Homo sapiens: one gene and its partners. The protein of the gene in region 4 purifies or fractionates together with the protein of the main gene of each other region. This does not show direct contact. Each region holds a gene or a part of one and is shown on either strand. Other genes may lie near its edges. The genes, in order: DYRK1A, FNTB, DCAF7 and FAM117B.

The links.
Region 1: the proteins of FAM117B (region 4) and DYRK1A purify together in Homo sapiens (affinity purification with mass spectrometry; 9 studies listed by BioGRID and IntAct, with this or other methods). This does not show direct contact.
Region 2: the proteins of FAM117B (region 4) and FNTB purify together in Homo sapiens (affinity purification with mass spectrometry; 3 studies listed by BioGRID). This does not show direct contact.
Region 3: the proteins of FAM117B (region 4) and DCAF7 purify together in Homo sapiens (affinity purification with mass spectrometry; 3 studies listed by BioGRID and IntAct, with this or other methods). This does not show direct contact.

The regions. Positions count from the first base shown.
Region 1 is NC_000021.9:37,523,539-37,526,923, reverse strand, and holds the end of DYRK1A (dual specificity tyrosine-phosphorylation-regulated kinase 1A), read right to left. Parts: 3' UTR 566-3,385; downstream 1-565. UniProt on the Homo sapiens protein: Dual-specificity kinase which possesses both serine/threonine and tyrosine kinase activities. Exhibits a substrate preference for proline at position P+1 and arginine at position P-3.
Region 2 is NC_000014.9:65,059,632-65,063,186, reverse strand, and holds the end of FNTB (protein farnesyltransferase subunit beta), read right to left. Parts: intron 2,007-3,555; coding exon 1,875-2,006; 3' UTR 537-1,874; downstream 1-536. Other genes in the region: CHURC1-FNTB protein, read right to left, coding at 1,875-2,006. UniProt on the Homo sapiens protein: Essential subunit of the farnesyltransferase complex. Catalyzes the transfer of a farnesyl moiety from farnesyl diphosphate to a cysteine at the fourth position from the C-terminus of several proteins having the C-terminal sequence Cys-aliphatic-aliphatic-X.
Region 3 is NC_000017.11:63,545,993-63,553,507, reverse strand, and holds the start of DCAF7 (DDB1- and CUL4-associated factor 7), read right to left. Parts: upstream 3,032-7,515; 5' UTR 2,831-3,031; coding exon 2,693-2,830; intron 1-2,692. UniProt on the Homo sapiens protein: Involved in craniofacial development. Acts upstream of the EDN1 pathway and is required for formation of the upper jaw equivalent, the palatoquadrate. The activity required for EDN1 pathway function differs between the first and second arches.
Region 4 is NC_000002.12:202,763,774-202,770,361, reverse strand, and holds the end of FAM117B (protein FAM117B), read right to left. Parts: intron 4,917-6,588; coding exon 4,598-4,916; 3' UTR 605-4,597; downstream 1-604.

The DNA of each region.
Region 1 (3,385 bases), on a different chromosome or scaffold from region 4:
AGGATAACAATAGAGTACAATTTTCTGGTAACGCCGGTCTACCAATAAGAATTGGAAATCTTTTGGGGGAATAACATTTCCCTAATTGAGATTCAGAGCTAGTGTTGTGAATCGTCAAAACCAATTGCATATTTGCATATATTTATCTGTTAATGCTGATTTGGAATGAGATGTGACACAGTTCATCTTTGAACATGTCTTCACACAGATAGGTACCTTCCCAACACTACTATGTCCATGAGCATTTTTTTTTTTTTTTTGAGACAGGGTCTTGCTCTGTCACCCAGGCTGGAGAGCAGTGGTGTGACCTCAGCTCACTGCAACCTCTGCCTCCCAGGCTCGGATGATGCTCCCACCTCCATCTCCCAAGTAGCTGGGACCACAGGCATGTGCCACCAAGCGAGGCTAATTTTTGTACTTTTTTTTTTTTTGTAGAGACAGGGTTTCACCATGTTGCCCAGGCTGGTCTTGAACTCCTAGGCTGAAGTGATCCTCCCATTTCAGACCCCCAAAGTGCTGGGATTACAAGTGTGAGCCACTGCACCCAGCTCATGAGCATAAGATGTTTAGCTTAGCATATTTATTACATAAAACACATTTATACATTTTTATAAGATTCTATTAGACTCTATTAAATTTTTCTTTAGATAGTTGCCTTTCAACACATTAATCACTTCTCAAATGCAGATCAATGGATTCTGAAATATAAAAATTTCTTTTGGGTTTGCATTGAGGTCCCTAACACACTGCTCAAACTGTAGTTTGGGCTCAGATAATGTATCTGTGGCAAATGTGTGTGGGAATGGAGCTCTTCTTTTTTTAACTTTTAACAACATGGGAAGAGCTTAAAGCAGTAACATTAGTTGTGATTCAAACAATAGTTCTTCTTGAAATCACTTAACACAGTAGGAGTTTCACATAAACACTGTTTTTATCTTGTGGTTTAGGCTGAATTCCTTAAGAAACACTATCAAGTCTGCAGCAAAAGTGAATTTCCAAAACTATTCAGTGTTTAGTAACGGTGGTTCGGGGCAGTTCTCATTCAGAAAAATTTCAATCTTTGTCCTGAGCTCAAAACTTAAATGAAACTTTACCACTACTAAACCATTGAACTGCTGTATTACAGGCCATGTCGGGATATTCAGCTAATATTTCTGACAAAAATTCATGAGAGCTGTTGATAGTGAAGTCCACAAGAGCTAAAGGAAGTTCACTATTGACAATACTGGTTCAATAATGCATGATAGATTCAAATATTTCTCACAAAGTATCTGTTGACTTAAATAATACAATGAATAATCTATAGGCTTTAACACCTTATATTATTACAAGCTTTGTAAGTTGTCCAACTGAGCCATTTTCTATTCCACACTGATATGAGTTAGCTGTGTCCCCACCCAAATCTCATTGAATTGTAGCCCCCATAATCCCCACGTGTCATGGGTAGGACCCAGTGGGAGGTAACTGAATCATGGAGGCAGGATTTTACCATGCTGTTCTCATAATAGTGAGTAAGTCTCATGAGATCTGATGGTTTTATAAAGGGCAGTTCCCCTGCACACACTCTCTTGCTTGCCGCCACCTAAGACTTGCCTTGGCTTCTCCTTTACCTTCCACAACGATTGTGAGGCCTCCCCAACCATGCGGGACTGTGAGTCCATTAAACCTCTTTTTCTTTATAAATTACCCAGTCTCAGGCTTTTCTTTATAGCAGTATGAAAATGGACTAATACACACATATATTTCCACTACCAACAGTCATAACACATCTTAGCAGATTCCACTTCAGGGTGTACTGAATTCGTTTTCTCAACTTTTTGTTTTGAGACAATGTTCTCACTCTGTCATCCAGGCTGGAGTACAGTGGTGCAATCTCAGCTCACTGCAACCTCCACCTCCTGGGTTCAAGCGATTCTCCTGCCTCAGCCTCCTGAGTAGCTGGAATTACCAGTGCATGCCATCATGCCCGGCTAATTTTTGTACTTTTAGTAGAGATGTAGTTTCACCATGTTGGCCAGGCAGGTCTCAAACTCCTGACCTCAGGTGATCTGCCCACCTTGGCCTCCCAAAGTGTTGGGACTATAGGCATGAGCCGCCACACCTGACCAGTTTTCTCAGCTTTGAAAATACTTTTGCCAGTAGTTGTTCCACATAAGACTATTGATAGAGGCCAATTCTTCAGTTACTTCCAACTTGGTACTGGCTCCTCAAATAAAGAGCAATAGCGGAGCAGTGTGCATAACATATGGTGACCCCTGTCATGAGAGTCAGGGGAAACCACTCAAAACCATTTGCCTTTTTAGTCGACTACTGATGTCATTCCTAATGTCAACTCTTTGAGCAACTGTTGTCGTGGAAAGGCCAATAAACAAGTTTACTTTCTCTGAGCATGTTTCTTCAGCTGCAGTAATCAAGCATGATTTAATTAATTCACCATAAGTGACTTTCCTTGCTTGGCTAACAAATGAGCCATCTGAAACTTACTTTGGTTGTAGCTTCATTTTCATTTTTTATTTTTGTGAATAAATTCTGTGATGAGATATTCAATTTTAAATTTTCTAATTTTTCTGACCATTGCTTTCTTGTGAATTAGAAATATCTTGATGAGTGCTAAGATGGGAAGTAACAACATGTATTTTGGTTTTTTTTTACTTTTTGTGGAGATGGGGGGTCTCACTATACCACCCAAGCTGGTCTCCAAATCCTGGGTTCAAGTGATTCTCCCACCTCAGCCACCCAAATCGTTGGGATTACAGGCATGAGCCACTGCACCTGGTTGTATTGTGTTCCTTAGGACAGCTACCATGTCATTGCACTTTGCTGCCTAATTCAGTAACAATTCATACTCCATTGTACCTTAAAAGCACAATGATATTTGAAATCCACTTTTCTTGTATATATTGGTAATAAAAAATAAAATGTTGTAGCATGGGAATACAAGTGGCATTCAAAATGCTGCTGAGTTATAACTGTGTCACTGCAATTTACATTGCACAGAGCGGCAGGGCAAAATGATGAGAATGCCACATATTCTCATCATACGGTCTCTGCAGCAACTACTCAATTCTGCCACAGTAGCACCAAAGTGGCCGTGGACAACTTGCAAATGAATGTGGTTATGTTCCAATAAAACTTCATTTATGGACACTGAAATTCAAATGTCATATAATTTCCCTATGTCCTGAAATATCATTTGATGTTTTTCAGCCATGTAAAATGTGAAAATCACCCTTAGTTTGGTGAGCCATACAAAAACAGGAGGGTACCTTGCTGATGCCTAATCTGCAATGGGCAGGAAACAGAAGCCAAAGTCGTCCCTGCTCTTCCAGAGCTCTCCTGTTCCTGAACAGCCGATAGCCCTGGAAGGATGTGATAACAGCAGCAG
Region 2 (3,555 bases), on a different chromosome or scaffold from region 4:
ATTTGGCTTATTTACATGGATTTGGGTGCCCTCTAAGGACACCATCTTCTCTCCCCTCCAAGAGGGTCAGGCCACAGGACATCCATGTTCTTGGCCTCCCATGGGAGAGGGTCTCTCGCCAGAGGAAGGGAAAGCCAAGTGGCCACAGAGTTCCAGCCTGTCCCTGTGACAGCCCCTGCCTCTGGCCAGACATCCACCCACCCTTGCTAAGTCAGCCTGCTCTGGGGCTACTAGGCCCAGTCCTTGCTGTCTGTCGGAGACAGACCATGAAGTGCAGTGTGTGGAGGGCTGGGACATAGCATACCGAATTACCCCAGGGAGCTTGGAAAACATCTCTTCCCACTCTCTGTTAGGCCCACGGCTTCCTCTACTGGAGGAGACGGCATGTGAGGATGGAACTCGGTCATTCCTCTGTCACCACCGATGTGAACAGTCTGGAATCCTGCACACAGGAGACTGACGATCCCTGAGCAACCTTTAGTAGCTCCTACCATTGGGCATTTTCTTGGTACAGATCACAAATAAGAGACATCATAGAAAATGTTATTCTTTTATTATTTCAAGGAGGTAATACATAGCCCAATATGGCAAAGCAAAAGGGAATTAGAGGCAGCAAATGGCCAGGTTTTTCTAAGCGCCTCATGCTGCATCTCTGAGCTCCTGTCTGCCCGCAGCCCACAGCTGCTTACATGAAGGCCAGGTCAGTAGACAGATGGCCCAACTTGATACTCCACTGACTGAGAAAGGGCTCAATGTGCAGCACAGCAGAGGCACTGCCAGGACCCAGCACGCTGGGCGGCACCCCACGCTGCCACCACCAGCTACAGAGGCTAGTGCCTTAGTAGCAGCCAGTGTGTCTAGCACTTGATTTTATTCCTGTGAGCCTAGAGTGGGCAGGACGTGAATAAATCCTGAGTCATAAGTTAAGGTGAAAGACTTAGTAGTGTTAATACTCTTGGTGAGAAAAGACAACACAGTCTTGGAGGAGAGTGGGCTTGGAGTCTGGTGGAAGAAAGATAGAAACCCCCAGAAGGGCCTCGGCCTGCAGGCACTGCCTTGAGGCCATCAGAGGGGGTTTTCACGGTACATGATAGGGAGGAGTGAGGCAGGTGGGCACTGGAGGGCTGTTTCCTCTGGCACAGTTGAACTAGAGGGTCACTTTCCACTCATAATTGGTTTCCTAGGTCTAAGTCACCACACCTGGGGCTGAAGCAAGTCTTGCCTGTGCACCAAGCGTGGCCTTGGACCCTGGAGAGATGCAAGGCTCAGTTCTCCAGTGTTGAAGTGGAAGGACTCCCAACTGAAGGAGATCTTTCTCTCCCCACCTCCAGCTCTTTTCCCTTACAAATGACCAGGGTGCAAGTCGAGAGGCAGAGGCACCTCCTGGTGCAACTCCACCACAGTCTTACAGAGAACTCATCTTGGTGGGACCCAAAGCCCAGCCTTGGCATGAAGCAGACTTATTCCACCCATCGGAGGGCACCCAGTCTGGTGACTGAATGGTGGCGTGCAAGTGGGAGTCAGCAGTGGCTCTGGATGCCGTAATACTCAGATGCCATTCATCTCTGTGTGATCGTCCTGGCTGGAGAGCTGGTGAGGAGGGACTGCTTCCTCCTGGCATGCACTGTTCACCAACCACACCACGTGGGCTGATAGATTTTTGGTTTGACAGGTGTGGAAAGAATTTTTAAAACCAGCCACTGTGTTCTCCAAACCCAGAGCCATTGGTTTTGTTTGACAAGAAAGTACCAAGAGAACCACAGCTCCACTGAGGCTAAGGCTTGTGTAGCACAGAATGCAGTATGTATTGAAACGTATAAACCTTGTCTGACTGGGGAGATGGGTGAGCAAAGAGCTGCCGGGACCCAGGTCCTCTAGTCGGTTGCAGGCTCTGCCGATGTCTCATCCTTAAGCTCCTCAAAACCTGGGACTGGCTTCTGTAGAAAGTATGTAGTGGCCTGGATCACCTTGTCTGGTCCAATGTTGTACACTGGGTGAGTGGGCTGCTGCAAAGAGAAGAAAAGGTGCCAGTTAATCACCCCGGTGGTCCTTGAAAACATAACACATCCTTTGCTCCATGAAAGGCACTTCTAAGAATTTAGTATAAGGAATCAGAGATACACACAAAGCCCAAAGGTTCAAAAATGGTGTATTTGCTAAAACTATCTAGTACATGGGACACAGGTTAATATACAGCCATTATAAACACGCATTTAAATATTTAACGATACAGGCAAATACTTACAACATATTATGTGAGAAAACAGTATGTACAATACTATCTCAAACTGTTTTTTTTTTTTTTTTTTTTTTTTTGAGAGAGTCTTGCTCTGTTGCCCAGGCTGGAGTGCATTGACACGATCTTAGCTCACTGCAACCTCTGCCTCCTGTGTTCAAGCAATTCTCCTGCCTCAGCCTCCTGAGTAGCTGGGATTACAGGTGTGAGCCACCACGCCTGGGTAATTTTTGTATTTTTTTTTTTTTTTTTTGAGACGGAGTCTCTCGCTCTGTCGCCCAGGCTGGAGTGCAGTGGCGGGATCTCGGCTCACTGCAAGCTCCGCCTCCCGGGTTCACGCCATTCTCCTGCCTCAGCCTCCCAAGTAGCTGGGACTACAGGCGCCCGCCACTACGCCCGGCTAATTTTTTGTATTTTTAGTAGAGACGGGGTTTCACCGTTTTAGCCGGGATGGTCTCGATCTCCTGACCTCGTGATCCGCCCGCCTCGGCCTCCCAAAGTGCTGGGATTATTTTTGTATTTTTAGTAGAGACAGGGTTTCACCATGTTGGTCCGGCTGGTCTCGAACTCCTGACCTCAGGTGATCCACCCGCCTCGGCCTCCCAAAGTGCTGGGGTTACAGGTGTGAGCCACCACACCTGGTCTCAAACTTTTTAAAAAGTGTATTTGTACCTGTGATGTATATAAATAGCAAAAATTGTACCCATACCAAAATATTAATAGTGATATGATTGTTTTTCATTTTCTTTTTTATATTTTATGTATCCCAATTATTAAAACAATAAACATGTATTTACATTTATAATCAAGAAAAAGGGGGCCGGACGCGGTGGCTCATGCCTGTAATCCCAGCATTTTGGGAGGCCGAGGTGGATGGATCACCCGAGGTCAGGAGTTCAAGACCAGCCTGGCCAAGATGGTGAAACCCCGTCTCTACAAAAATACAAAAATTAGCCGAGCATGATGGTGAGTGTCTGTAATCCCAGCTAGTTGGGAGGCTGAAGCAGGAGAATTGCTTGAACCCGGGAGGCGGAGGTTGCAGTGAGCCAAGATTGTGCCACTGCACTCTAACCTGGGCAACAGCGAGACTCTGTCTCAAAAAAAAAAAAAAAAGAAAAAAGGACCACAACCCTAATATGTAGTAAGGCTGTCAGATCATATTTAAATATATAAACAAAATTTAAATATGAAATTTAAATTAAATAGATGTTATTCTAGTACATCACAGAAACCCAAAAGAAACTTTAGATTTGACACGGCATAATCCTAGGCCAATATTCAGGATTCTCCCACTGTGGGATAATGAAGAAGGGGACACA
Region 3 (7,515 bases), on a different chromosome or scaffold from region 4:
AAACTTAGCCTGAGAATCACTTTAAGGCAGGATTTGCTGCTCACCAACCACTACACATACTTCTCTCTCGCAGGGTTTCTTAACTTGGGGTCTGTGAACTTGAATTGGAAAATTATCCCCATATTTCCATTAACCTCTAGCTAAATTTTTTTGTTTCCTTCAATTACAAATGGGGTCAGGTGCTCACAGTGGTATGACTGTCTGTGACTTTGCCAGCAAGAGAATTTTTTTTTCCCACCACAGCACAGTTGTTAAGCATCTTGAAATGCTGTTTACCCTTGTCACCATTTCAAAATTACATTAATAATTACAGTGGATGGTGTAAATCAATAAGTTAATTTATTAAAAGTACATATGACTACATCACCACTTTAAAAAACATGTTGTTTATATCTGTAGTGCAACATAAGTGGTTTCTTTTGTAATTCTATGTGTTTTATGCATTTGAAAACATAACTATGAGAAGGGGTCTATTGGTATCAGATGACCATGGCACACAGAATTTAAGAACCCTGATCTACTGATAGGTGGAGGCACAAAAATGATTTTAAGACAGCGCATTGCCTACATCATGTGAGTTAAGATATAGTTAACTGCTAATGCTGTTGATAGTGGGGTTATTAGTTTGCATTTCACTGCTAAGCCATGCTACCTGTGTGCCTGTCACAAAGAGGAAGCTCCAGATAGTTGCTAAATGAAAGGACAAACTGGGGTAGAGTTCCTGCAACAGCAGTTTGACTACTCCACTGATCCTACCAAGCAGCCTAACTGTGGCTCAGTTTCTCCTCTCTGAGGAATAGGAGTAACTATTGCTTACCCAACGACCCTGGAAAAACTTACAAGAAAAAACATTAATTTGTGTAAAAAGACTTAAGCCCTTTGAAAGACATACTTTTTTATTTTCCACGTGTATCTTTAAACAATAGTTCTAGTGGTCTTAATTTTATTAACACGGTGTCCACATCAGAATCGTGAATCCCATTTCCAGTTCTGCTGTCCACTATGGGCCATAAGGAAGAAAGAAGCAACAGAGGAAAGAAAGCTCTATCTCGCCCGGGCAATGGGTGGACTTAAAGATCAGTGCATATTCCTTGGATTTGTTTGTAAATTGTTCATGTATGTGTAATGTCTGGACAATGAGAATCCATAGCTTTCATCAGCTTCTCAAAGTGGACTCCAAAGAGGACCTACTCTAGAGAAACAAATGTGCTCCTGAAAAACTGTAAACAAACTGTGAAATGTTCAAATTTCTTTTTTACAAGACCCTCACATGTAAACCAGAACCCCTTCCGTACAAACTGTGGGTCACAGATAATAAAACAGGCCTGTGCAACATCTCACAGCTAGTCAATAACCAGACAGGACCACCTGGTTTCTTCCCCCCTGCATCAGCCTTGTCACTGAACAGTTTTATTCTTCTTTTTTTTTCTGAGACAGAGTCTCACTCTGTCGCCCAGGCTGGAGTGCAGTGGCGCCATCTCGGCTCACTGCAACCTCCGCCTCCCAGGTTCAAGCAATTCTCCAGCCTCAGACTTCCGAGTAGCTGGGACTACAGGCGCACTAAGCTACGCCCGGCTTTTTTTTTTTTTTTTTTTTTTTTTTTTTTTTTTTTTTTTGTATTTTAGTAGAGACGGGGTTTCACCGTGTTACCCAGGCTGGTCGCGAACTCCTGAGCTCAGGTAATCCGCCCGCCTCGGCCTCCCAAAGTCCTGGGATTACAGGCGTGAGCCACCGCGCCCGGCCAGTTTTACTCTTCTTAAATCTGATGTTCATGGCATAAAGCAGGAGTAGTGGCTTTAAATATCACTAGCCACAGCTTTCAGTTGCTCTGATCGCTATCATTCACAACTTTGAGTAAAAGGAAGAAAGAAAATTCTTCCAACTGACTTATTCAACTTTCAAAAATGAGTTTGTTGCAATGCCAGTTTAAAAGCTCCCCTACTACACCGTGCTTCTATAAAGGATTCTCAAATTGATGTATGTCCAGCAAGACTTACTACTAAAGGTCACACAACTGTACTAGCACGAAACAAGCCAAGAGATAAGGCCCTGTCATCCTTCTGTGTTCAGGAAACAACGGCGGGATCATGCCACAGGCCAAGATTTCCAAAGAGATTGCTTTAGAGAGAATGGATATCAGGAAGCAAGAGCAACAGTAATTCTGGCAGAAGGGCTAGGATCCATGAGTACCCGGGGGGGGTGGGAGTAGGGGGCGGGGAAGCTTGTACAATAGATCGTCTTAATAGAAATCTAGTGTGGCCAGGAGTGCACGACCACCAATAGAAGCGCCTGCATTTTCCTTCACAGCTATCACTCTCTCTTCCCTTCCCCGCCCACCAACGAAAGCAATGCGGCAGGAGTGGAGAGCACGGGATGAATAAATGGAGTATCTTTGGGGCGTAAACCCGGTTTTAAGACCTGTTTCCACCCCGAAATAGCTGCCTGACCCAGGCAAGTCACAAAACCGTGCCTCAGTTTCCCCACTACACTGCCGACTACACAAGAATGCTGCCTGGATTAAAGGAGACAGACAACGAGTACGAAACCTTCAGCACAGGGCCAGACAGAGGAACCGCTCCGTGGCCCTAGGGCGAGTCCGCAAGAGGGTTCTGAGGCCTGGGCTCCGGCCCGGAAAGGGCGCTCCCGGGGCCCGCTCCCCGCCAGCTGGGTTCCGAGCCCCTGCCCGGCCCACCTTGTTGTTGTACTCCTCCACGAAGCTGCCCAGCGCCAAGCGAAAGCGCTTATCGGGCCGCACACTCCAGTTCATCGCGTAGACTGTCCAGGGCGCTTCATACTTGTAGATCTCCTTCCGTTTGCCGTGCAGGGACATGGTGGCCACGGGGCCGCAGTACGGGCCGGGTCAACAGTGGGCTGCGGCGGGCGGGGAGCCGAGCCTGAGATCTATGGGTCCGAAGGGAGGAGAGGAGGGGGCGGGCAGGAACGGCCTAACCCGGAAGCGGGGATGCGGCGACAAACAACGACGACGGCCGAGCCCGACCCCTAGTTTCAAACCAGCTTGGGAACGGACGACAACCACCTTCCGTTTTGGGACGCCGCCCCGCCCTCTCGGAACGGAAGCCGCCGGACCCCCGCAGCGGCACCGGCCGTTGGTTGCCTGACACGTCCTTTCGAAAGGATTCTTTCTTGTCATTGGTTATTGCGGCCGTAGCGTCTGAAATCTCCTCGCTATTGGGTTAAATGTTTGTCATTGCAACTACTCGCCCCGCCCAACTCTCGGAGGCAGGCGCTTTGGCAGCCCCAAAGGTCATTGGTTGGCCAAGATGTCAGTCAGGCAGATAACGGCTCAGTGCGGGTGGTGGGGGCGTGGGTGGCCTGGAGGCGAGCGTGCTGTAGCAGCGGGCCTCCAAGTTCTAGGCCAAGTCTCTGAGAGTGAAACCGTCTGTGACCTGCGCTGACTTCCCCTCCGCTGCTGCTGTTCTGAGCGGCCTCTCCACGCTGTCGAGTAAAAGTACAATTCTGCCTTAGTGGAAGACCTACTGACTTTCGCGGGACAGAGCCCTGCGGCCTGGCAGCCTGGCCTGCGCCCAACGGGTACCACCTTCCCGCCCCATCTCTTCCCAGGGCCCTTTTAACCCGAAAGCTGCTCTCTCCGTGCCTCAGGGACAGGCTTCGGGCGCGCAGATGCGCTCAGGGCCAGGCCAGCTTGAGTCAGGCCCTCCCGCGCTTTCCTGCAGGATCTAGAAATGTCCCCGAATTCTGGGGTAGGCACCGACCCGACCAGCTTGGCTCTGTTTTTGTCAGTTCCCATCCTGTACCCTTCCCGCCGTGGATCCCAACGCAAATGCTAATCCAGCCCCAAAGGTATCTGTGCCTGTGAGTTGGAAAAGGGGAAGGGCCAGAGACCAAATGACACCTTTATATAAATTATTTCCAATTCTCAGCTTTCATCAAAATTGAAGGAGGTTTGTATTGAATTGTTGGATGATAACATTAAATACTTTTTTTTTTTTTTTTTAAAGACAGGGTCTTGCCCTGTCACCCAGGCTGGAGTGCACTGGTGTGATAAGGGCTCACTGTAGCCTGGACTGCCTAGGTTCAAACGATTCCCCCACTTTAGCCTCTGGAGTAGCTGGAACCACAGACATTTGCCACCACACCTAGCTATTTTTAAATTATTATTTGTAGAGATGAGATCTCTCCATGTTGCCCAGGCTGATCTCGAACTCCTGGGCTCAAGCGATCCTCCCACATCAGCATCCTAAAGTACTGGGATTACAGGCTTGAGCCACCATTCTGGGCACTAAATATAATTTTTAATGATAAATGATTTTTCCACCTCCCAGGTTCAAGTGATTCTCCTGCTTCAGCCTCCCGAGTAGCTGAGATTACAGGGGTGCACCACCACAGCCAGCTAATTTTTGTATTTTTAGTAGAGATGGGGTTTCACCATGTTGGCCATTCTGGTGTCGAACTCCTGACCTCAAATGATCTTCCAGCCTCGGCCTCCCAAAGTGTTGGGATTACAGGCGTGAGCCACCGCATCTGGCCAAGAAATCCTCTTTTTTTTTTAATTTTATTTTATTTTTGAGATGGAGTCTCACTCTGTCGCCCGGGCTGTAGTGCAGTGGCACTATCTCGGCTCACTGCAACCTCTGCCTTTAGGGTTCAAGTGATTCTCTTGCTTCAGCCTCCTGAGTAGCTGGGATTACAGGCGCCCGCCACCATGCCCAGCTAAAGGAAATCCCCTGTAAGGAGGAAAGTTTAAAAACAAATTTAAAAAGGAAAGAAAAAGACGTACAAAATTCGCGGTACCTTGTCTTATTCTAATAAAAAATAATGATATTTATCCACAGATATAGGAACTAACGGGGGGAGGAAATTTTCTCTTTTATGACGTATATTTCCAATAAAATTTTAGTTTTTATTAGAAAATTGAATATATATTTATGTTGTTTTGAACAACTGTACTACTAATAGATGTAACCCTTAAAGCCTTATTAAGGTTACAAAAATTAATTTTAAAATGTCAATTAATTTATACACATTCGTTTTGAGGCAGGGTCTTGCTCTGTTATCCAGGTGGTGGTGCAGTGGGGCAAACAGTGCTTATTGCAGCCTTGACCTCCCGGGCTCAAGCAATCCTCCTGCCTCCTTTATTTTTTGTAGAGACAAGATCTTGCTATGTTGCCCAGGCTGGGTTCAACTGGTCCTCCCACCTCAGCCTCCCAAAATGCTGGGATTATAGGCATGAGCCACCCCATGACCGACCTACTTTTTTTTTGAAACGGAGTCTTGCTCTGTTGCCCACGCTGGAGTGCAGTGGCACGATCTTGGCTCACTACAAGCTCCACCTCCTGGGTTCACGCCATTCTCCTGCCTCAGCCTCCCGAGTAGCTGGGACTACAGGCACCTGCCACCACGCCTGGCTATTTTTTTTGTATTTTTAGTAGAGATGGGGTTTCACCCTGTTAGCCAGGATGGTCTTGATCTCCTGACCTCGTGATCTGCCCACCTCAGCCTCCCAAAGTGCTGGGATTACAGGTGTGAGCCACTGCGCCCAGCCACTTTTTTTTTTTTTTTTAAGAGACCGAGTCTTGCTCTGTTACCCGGGCTGGAGTACAGTTGCATGAACATGGCTTACTGCAGTCTTGACCTCTTAGGTTCAAGTGACTCTCCCACCCAAGCCTCCCAGCAAGCCCTGTAGTACCTGGGACTACAGGTGCGCATCACAATGCTTGGCTAATTAAAAAAAAATTGTTTTGTAGAGACCAGGTTGAGCTATGCTGCCCAGGCTGGTCTTGAATTCCTGGCTCAAGCAATCTTCCAGCCTCAGCCTCCCAAAGTGTTGGGATTACAGGCATGAGTGAGCCACTGCACCCAGCCTGTATACATATTTGTGTTGCAAACATATGATAGGGTGATCAATATTAGGCTTTGAAGCATACCAATAAATTACATGTAGGATAAAACTATGGGAGGAATAAGTGGGAATTATGAGAAAAGAAAAAAGAACGATGTTAAAGAAGGGTTTCTTGTGTTTTTAAAATAGATGGTGGTGGCTCTCAAATCGCTGCTATTTGGGTAGAAATGGGTCAATACAAATGCCCCGTGTTGGGCACGGGGATGATTTTTAAAATTTTCATTTTGAGACAGGGTCTTATTCCCTTGCCCAGGGTGTGAGTTCAGTGATGCAATCACGGCTTACTGTAACCTTGGACTCCTGGCCTCAAGCAGTCCTCCTGCCTCATCCTCCTCCCAAAGCCCTGGGATTACAGGCATGAGCCACTACACCTGGCCTCTTTTTTTATTTTTATTTTCTTTTTAACTGAGGTATAATTTACACACAGAAGCACACTCTTTCGCAACCTGAACACCTGTAACCAGCACCTAGATCAGGAAACAGAACAGTACCTGCACCTCAGAAATCCCCCTCATGTTTGGGTGTCTTAGTCTCTCTGCTACTGATCCCACATCTGTAAAATGGGGATAATAATACCAACCCGTTGGGGTTGTTTTGAGGATTAGATGAACAAGTATCTGCAGAGCTGTCAGCACAGTGCCTGGTACGGGGCGAGTGCTACCGAAGTGTTGGCTGTTGTCATGATCCCCTAGGGCCACCAAGCCAGTGCCTCTGCTTCCCTTCACCTCGGCCTAACAGCCCCAGGCTCCAGGAGCCTCTGGGCCCAGCAGAACCACCTTCAGGTCCCCAACACACTGGATATGGTGGAGGGTAAGTCTGCAGCTCCTTACAAGAAGGGTTTGGAGAAAGCCACAGCACAGTCAAAGACGTAATGACCTTCAGATAAGTTACACACCCAGTCCAACATGAAATGTGTACTTTATTAGCTGTGTGACACTCCACTGCCCTCAAGAGACCCAATGTCACAGAACCATCAGGAGCAGAGGGCTGGAGGACTGTCCTGACATGTCTGCCACAGAACATACCTCCATCTCCAGCCAGGTCAGAGGCTCATGGTAAGAGTTCTGACCAACCCCGGGCCTTGGTGCTGAGCCATGAGGTGCTGGAGGGTTCTGAGCTGGGAGGCTCAGAGCAAGGTACTCATGTAGATCAGAAACCTCTTTCTTCACTGCCCCCTCAATCCTGTAAGCTGCCTCCACACCTGAGACTCTCCCACCCTGCACCAGGCTTGCTGTTTAAATGGAGCCCTGGAGGAGGCTGGGAAAAGTCGTGAGCTTCTTCACCCACGCCATCCTGGGTCACCTGGATCAGCAGTTTGTAGCTACTTTAGGAGAGGCCCATCTGGGGGGCTGTCTGCCTCCCCAAGATCTTTTTTTTTTTTTTTTTTGAGTTGGAGTCTCACTCTGTCACCCAGGCTGGAGTGCAGTGGTGCGGCCTCGGCTCCCTGCAACCTCCACCTCCCGGGTTCATGCCATTCTCCTGCCTCAGCCTCCCCAGTAGCTGGGATTACAGGCGCCTGCCACCACGCCCGGCTATTTTTTTTCTTTTTTAATTTTAGTAGAGGTGGGGTTTCACCGTGTTAGCCAGGATGGTCTGATCCGCCCGCCTCGGCCTCCCAAAGTGCTGGGATTACA
Region 4 (6,588 bases):
GTACTCCACCCTGGGCAACACAGCAGAGACTCTGTCTCAAAAACAAAAAAAAATTAATTTGGTGACCAAATTACTGTGGTGACTTATGTCATTAAAATGTGTCCCTGCTTTCTAAGTTATTACAGTGTAGCCTTCTGACCAGCTCTGCTGTGTGGATACAGACAAAATCCCCAAAACTCAACAACTGTCCCCTGAAACCCAACGACTGTCTTGCATATATAAGCCACTGTCACAAAGGAAGAATATGGCTGAATTACCAAGAATTAAAACAAAAAAACTCCTCTCATGTACTTTATAATGAATGTAAGTGACTGCCCCAGCTAAGTTACCTCTAACAAAACTCTGAAGCAGTGAATTCCTCACGCGTGGGTATCTCTCTGTGCTGCTTATATTTTAATGTGTGCCTAGCACTTACCCCAAAGAGCAGGTACTTTCAGTTCTAGGGCAGGTGAGGGGTAGCAAGGAACTTGCTGCTGAACACAAACAAATTTTTCTATTAGTCTGAGAAAAACAATGTACCGCTTAAAAGCTAGATAAATAACCAGTCCAAAAAGAAATGTAACTTGAATTTGGACAATATTCATAAAAATTCACAGAAAAAAACTCAAGAAGAACAGACTTTATTTTTAACATAAAAGTTCTATTTTCTTGTGAGGCAGCAACAAGTGTTCAGGTACAGGGAATACATAAGTACAGCGTAACAATACCGATTACCATTGGAAATGCTGTTTTTTGAGAGAATTGTTAGAATAACAAAATGTTTTAAATTGCATTTTAAAAAGAGTTACACAGCTTCCACAGAGACAAAAAATGAAGAGTTAAAAAAATTCTATTCTTAAACAAGACTGTATAAACAAAATGCTGTTCAGGGCTGCTCTGCTCATCTTCAATTTGGTCAGAGTAGAACTTAAAGTGCAGAGTTAAGCATTCTTAGCTTTATTTTGCAAATTCAGCACTTCCACTCATCTGGTTTTGAGACATCAAAATTCCAAAGACTAAGGAATGAATCTTAAGTTTACAATAGTAAAGTAAATGCAGTAGTGGCAAATTTTCTTTTATTTTCCTTCACAAAAGAAAATCTTTATAACCCAGTCCTAGTCTTGGACATAGTGAAAGCTATAAATTCTGACTTTTTTTACACTTTCTTTCAGTGAAAGCCAACCACTGAAAGCAAAGAAAAAGGACTTTCATGTCGTCAAATATTCCACAGTTAGCAAGAGCACCTTCTAAAAGACTGATTTGGACTGTAGTCATAAGTATTAAGTATAAGAAATATAAAACAAATTGAATAATCTAGTTGAAAAATAATCTTGACATCCATGCTCACCACATGTAACCAAAGAGGCAAAACCGGTATTTTTAAAACACAGTTGCGTACAAAAGCCATGACAAGTAATAGACTCAGTCATGATCAGAAACAGTAAATTTATATTATTTTTATCATCACAAAGAAGAAATTGTTTAAAGATTTAAAAAAACCTAAGATTGACAAAGTGAATAACCAAATAGCTCCTTTCTCTGAAAGACACATGCTACCCATTTCTTTTAATGCAATGGAAATAAATTTTTATAAAATTAAAAAAATTTAAATTATATTCCCATTGAAGCTATTCTATTTACCTTCTGTACAGTTTTCTACAGAATAACAATAATTATGGAGTGTAACTTTAGAAACCAACATTATGCATTCTATTGAGAGTGTCACATTTCACTGGAAAGCTGGAGACCCATTTAAAAAAAAAATCAACCACCAGGGAACTAAGGGTTAAATAAAACAGCTGAATGAACCTATGGTTAATATTTTTTTCAAGACTGTGGTAAAGCTTACATGCTTAAAAATTAGCCCTTTGGCACTGGCAGTTAGAGTTGTTTTGTACCTTGTACCTTTTTTTCAAATCTCAAGCTCTATTTCTCCCAAACCCCAGGGATCTGTCTGGTTGCCATACAATTCATTTACCTGCAAATTCACATTCTCCTTACAACCAAACATTACACTAGAAGTTCTATGTATAAGACTGTAAATAATTCTGAAACTTGTTCTTCCATTCCAATTTTAAGTTACTTTAGATTAAGGACATATGAAACTCCACAGAAAGATATGAATTAGACAAATAGGCACAACAGAGCAAAAGGGAAAACCTCTACAGAGTGGCATTCTAGTTCTAAAATGCCATTGTGACTAGCAGGGATAGAGATGGAAGAGGAACGGAAGTGCAAGGCCAAGAACACAGATTTAACAGAATTCAAGTCATCCAAAAACCAAGAGTTCTTTTTAAATAACTTGTTTTTAACTTCCTCTACCCCCATTCTGATTTCAGTTTTACCTTTTCTTCTGAACTTCTGATACAGCAGATACTCAGTGGTGATACAGTCAAGTTATAATGCATAACAAAGAAGGCAAAATATCAAGGCTCTCAGTGAGAAAATGTAGACCCCAAATAACTGAGCTTTTCATGACTGAGAAGCCATAACGTACTAGTTCCAAATAAATTAGTTTTGGATTGAGAAAGTACCAAAGTTCATCAATCCCACCATCTAAAACCTGACGGATTTATTCAAATGTTGAATTTATCCAATTTACCTAAATGCATCTCGAATTTAAACTCAACAGGGATTATTTTAAATTGCTTAGATGTTTTAAAGGTACATGAGTATAAGAAGTCCTTTCCAAAGATTTATTGCTACCACTAGGTTTTCCTTGATAGAATATGTCTGGGTAAGCTGACATATTAACCTTCTAAACTGCATCCTCTTTATAAGGATTTAAAAACTTTTTTCTACCTTATAATATGTATAGGAACAGTAAATTATTGCATCATAAAGTAGTATATGAAGATATGAAAAGGATGCTTTTATTCAATACTGTTTGCTGAAACTCACTTTTAAAAAAAGAGCTGCTCCTGGATGGGCGTGGTGGCTCACACCTGTAATCCCAGCACTTTGGGAGGCCAAGACGAGCAGATCACCTGAGGCCAGGAGTTCAAGAACAGCCTGACCAACATGGTGAAACCCCATATATACTAAAAATACAAAATTAGCTGGGTGTGGTGGTGCATGCCTGTAATCCCAGCTACTTGGGAGGCTGAGGCAGGAGAACTGCTTGAACCTGGGAGACAGAGGTCGCAGTGAGCCGAGATTGCGCCATTGCACTCCAGCCTGGGCAACAAGAGTGAAACTCCGTCTCAAAAAAAAAAAAAAAAAAAAGCTGCTCCTTAATCTCACTACCACATACCCAGAAATCACATACTGATGTCATGTGATACTGGCAGTGATTTATATTAGGATGAGCCCTAATCCAAAACTGTATGGAGTTTTCAAAGGTGCTTATCGTTCATACTCAAGTTCTTCTTGTGTATTTTCCCCACTATGTGAAGCGTTAGGGGGGTAAATTAGCAAAATCTGTAGGCAACAAATCTCAGGGCCAACCACCACCACAAAGAAAAATGTCAGTCACAGGATTCTGCGGCTACAGTTTGGATCACTATCCACTGGATTACACTCCTGGCAAACTACTAGCCCAACCAAATCCACAAGACAACAACATCACAAGGGCAAAGGAGGAAATCCATGCACAGCCATTTCAGGATCTCTTTGGGGCTATGATACAGTGATGATTAAAGGTAGAATGACACCTGTGGTAAAGGAGGGAGAGCGTGTGATATATATATATATCACAGAAAACCAAAGGGGCTCCTTACTCTTAGCTAGCAATCAACGCTGGATAGCTTCCTTTTGGCTCACTGACTTTTAAATCAAGTTCCAATATGGGTGAGAACATATTAAAGCACTTGTCTTCAGACTACAACTTTTCTGACCACATGGTGAAATGTGTACAGGAGTAGTGAAGAAAACAGCAGTTATACAAATATTTCACCCAAAGCACAAACTTTTGACATCAAAAACATAAATCACATAATGTACGAATATTGCTTTTTAATCTCTTTTTATATATACTTGTTCAATGCATTTACCTATCAATCCTTGTTTGGGAGAAGAACATAGTCATGAGATTAAGATTGCTGGGAAAACGTCAACAATCCCTTTGGTCCCAAAGCTGAAAACAGCTGAGAAAAGCACACATCTAGAAAGGGAACAAGAAACAGAGGCCACCAAAGAATCTTTTGAATATCCTGTTTGCTACGTTTCAGAAAATGTAACATTGGTATATTATAAAATAGTCATTTTCATAGAAAAGATGGTTCTTGCAGCATCAGTCACATCTCCCTTTAGGAATCATGTTGGCAAGGATCAGGGGTGTGTGTGTGTGTGTGTGTGTGTGTGTGTGTGTGTGTGTGTGTGTTTTAAAGAAGTCTAATTCGAAAACAAAAACGTGATATTGTCTCTCCAAAGGTAAAGAATGAGACCTTTCTTGTTTCAATCAGTGCTTTGATAAAAAGCAGGCTAAGCACTGAGGGTTGGCGTTCACAAGTGGGGCAGAGCCGTCACGGGGGATCCTTTCTTCCAGAAGCCTCGCCGTCACATGTCACTGGAAAGCTGGAGCACATCACAGCCGACCAGAAGCGCACGATGCCATCAGAATCCAGTGATCTGAGGAGGTTCCCAATTTCCCAGAACAACAGCCACGTTGCACTGTGACCTATCCTTCAGCTTCCTCAATTGGTTCTGGTGGTGGGAGTAGAGAAGCTGATGGCATGACTGTACTTGTTCCTCGAGAGACTCGGTCTTGCTCTGTGTTTGTAGACAGGGAGGCCACAGCAATAGGCTGCAGCAGAGTGGTTGTCATGCCAGTGGTGACTGTCAGGCTGTGGCCAGAGCCCTTGAGTGTAAGATCCGGGGTAGGAAGGAGTGGCTTGAGGATGCTGACGAGGCAGAAAGCAGATCCACTTTTAGGAATGAAATTCACCTTGTTTTTGTCAGGACAATAAAAGGCTGGGATTTCATGAAGCTGTTTTGGCCTAGACATAGAACAGACAACCCAATGCTTTTAAGTCACTGAACTTAAAAAATAAAAAAAAAAAAAAGCTTGGAAACAAGCTCTTTTATTTTTTAAAAACAGTTAACTTACATCACAGAAAAGGAATATAAAACTCAAGCTCTGTCCCCCACCTTCAAACATAAAGGACCAAAGTGCTATCTGACATATGATTCAACATATGTATCTTAGAATGCAAGAAGCCCCCATCATCATTGCTGCTTTCAGTTCCCTTGACAGCCCCATTACCATGCAGGTGGCTCAGCCCGATGAGCACTGCATGTCAATGATGAGCTAAGACGGTCAAGGGAATAATGAATTTCCTATAGCAAAAGAAAATCTAGATGTTTAAAGACATGTATGCCTTTATGTATGGTATATTCCACTGCCATGATTTTTCCGAGGTCTATAGTATACTGGAAGGAGACAGCAAGGAAATTAAAGATATACAATGTCCGTCTTTTGCTAAGTTCCACCACTGCATGACTAAAACTATGGTAGGCCTGGCTTTTCTCTTCAAGTGCTTGTAAAAATCTCTTTGATGGAAACAATTCTTTGAGTTAACCCTGATAGTTTTCTGAGCAATATAATGTAAATGTGAAATCAAAATGAAAACTCCTTTGCTTTGAAAGCTTTTTATTAAAGCCAAATCCTTCCCTTTTCCTAGGTCCTCCTGAAAATTAACCCAAATTGTTGAAAAAGATATTGGTATTAATGGTATTTCATGAAAATTAAAAGTATAAAAAAACTACATTGTTAAAGCAACACAGAAATGCCACAGAACTAAGGTGGGAGAACCTAAATAAATCAAGACTTAGGTTGATTCTCATCTCTTCCAATGACAATAAAAATCTAAATCAGCCAGCCATGGTGGTTCACACCTGTAATTTCAGCACTTTGGGAGTCTGAGCGGGGAGGCTTACTTGAACCCAGGAGTTCCAGACCAGCCTGGGCAACATAGTGAGACCTCGTCTTTATAAAAACCTTAAAAAAAAAAATAATCTAGTCTGACGGCATGCACCTGTAGTCCCTGCTACCTGGGAGGCTGAGGTGGGAGGATAGCTTGGCCCTGGGAGGTGGAGGTTGTACTGAGCCATAATCGGGCCACTGCACTCCAGCCTGGACAGCAGAGCAAGACCCTGTCTCACACACACACAAAAAATCTAAATCAGTTCAATAAAAATGCAAGTGTTCACTAAATTCTGAGGATACAAAGTTGAAACAATCCACAAGGAGGAGGTGGACTAAATTTATAGTTCTTGTGGGGTGAGGAGTGATGGGGACAGAGCTGTGTTTCAACATAACTAGCTTCCTTTATAATCTTGTGTATATGATGCATTTAAAACATTATTCAGAGAAGGGATCCACAAGCTTTACCACACAGACTGCCAAAGCTGTCCACAGCACAGAAGAGGTTAAGACCGCCACAAGAGAATCTAACAGGCATGATTACAGAGGTTTATAAAAAGGTTTACAGGTAGCACAAGGGGGTGGATAACCTGTGGCCTGTAGGAAGAGGGAGGGTTTGGTAGTAACCCTCTGAGCTGGGTTTTGAAGAATGAGTAAACAGCGGATGGGGAGTGGACACCAAAAAGATGTGTGTTCCAAGTAGACAATGATTAGGTGGGCAGATTTTTATTAACAGTGAACACTAT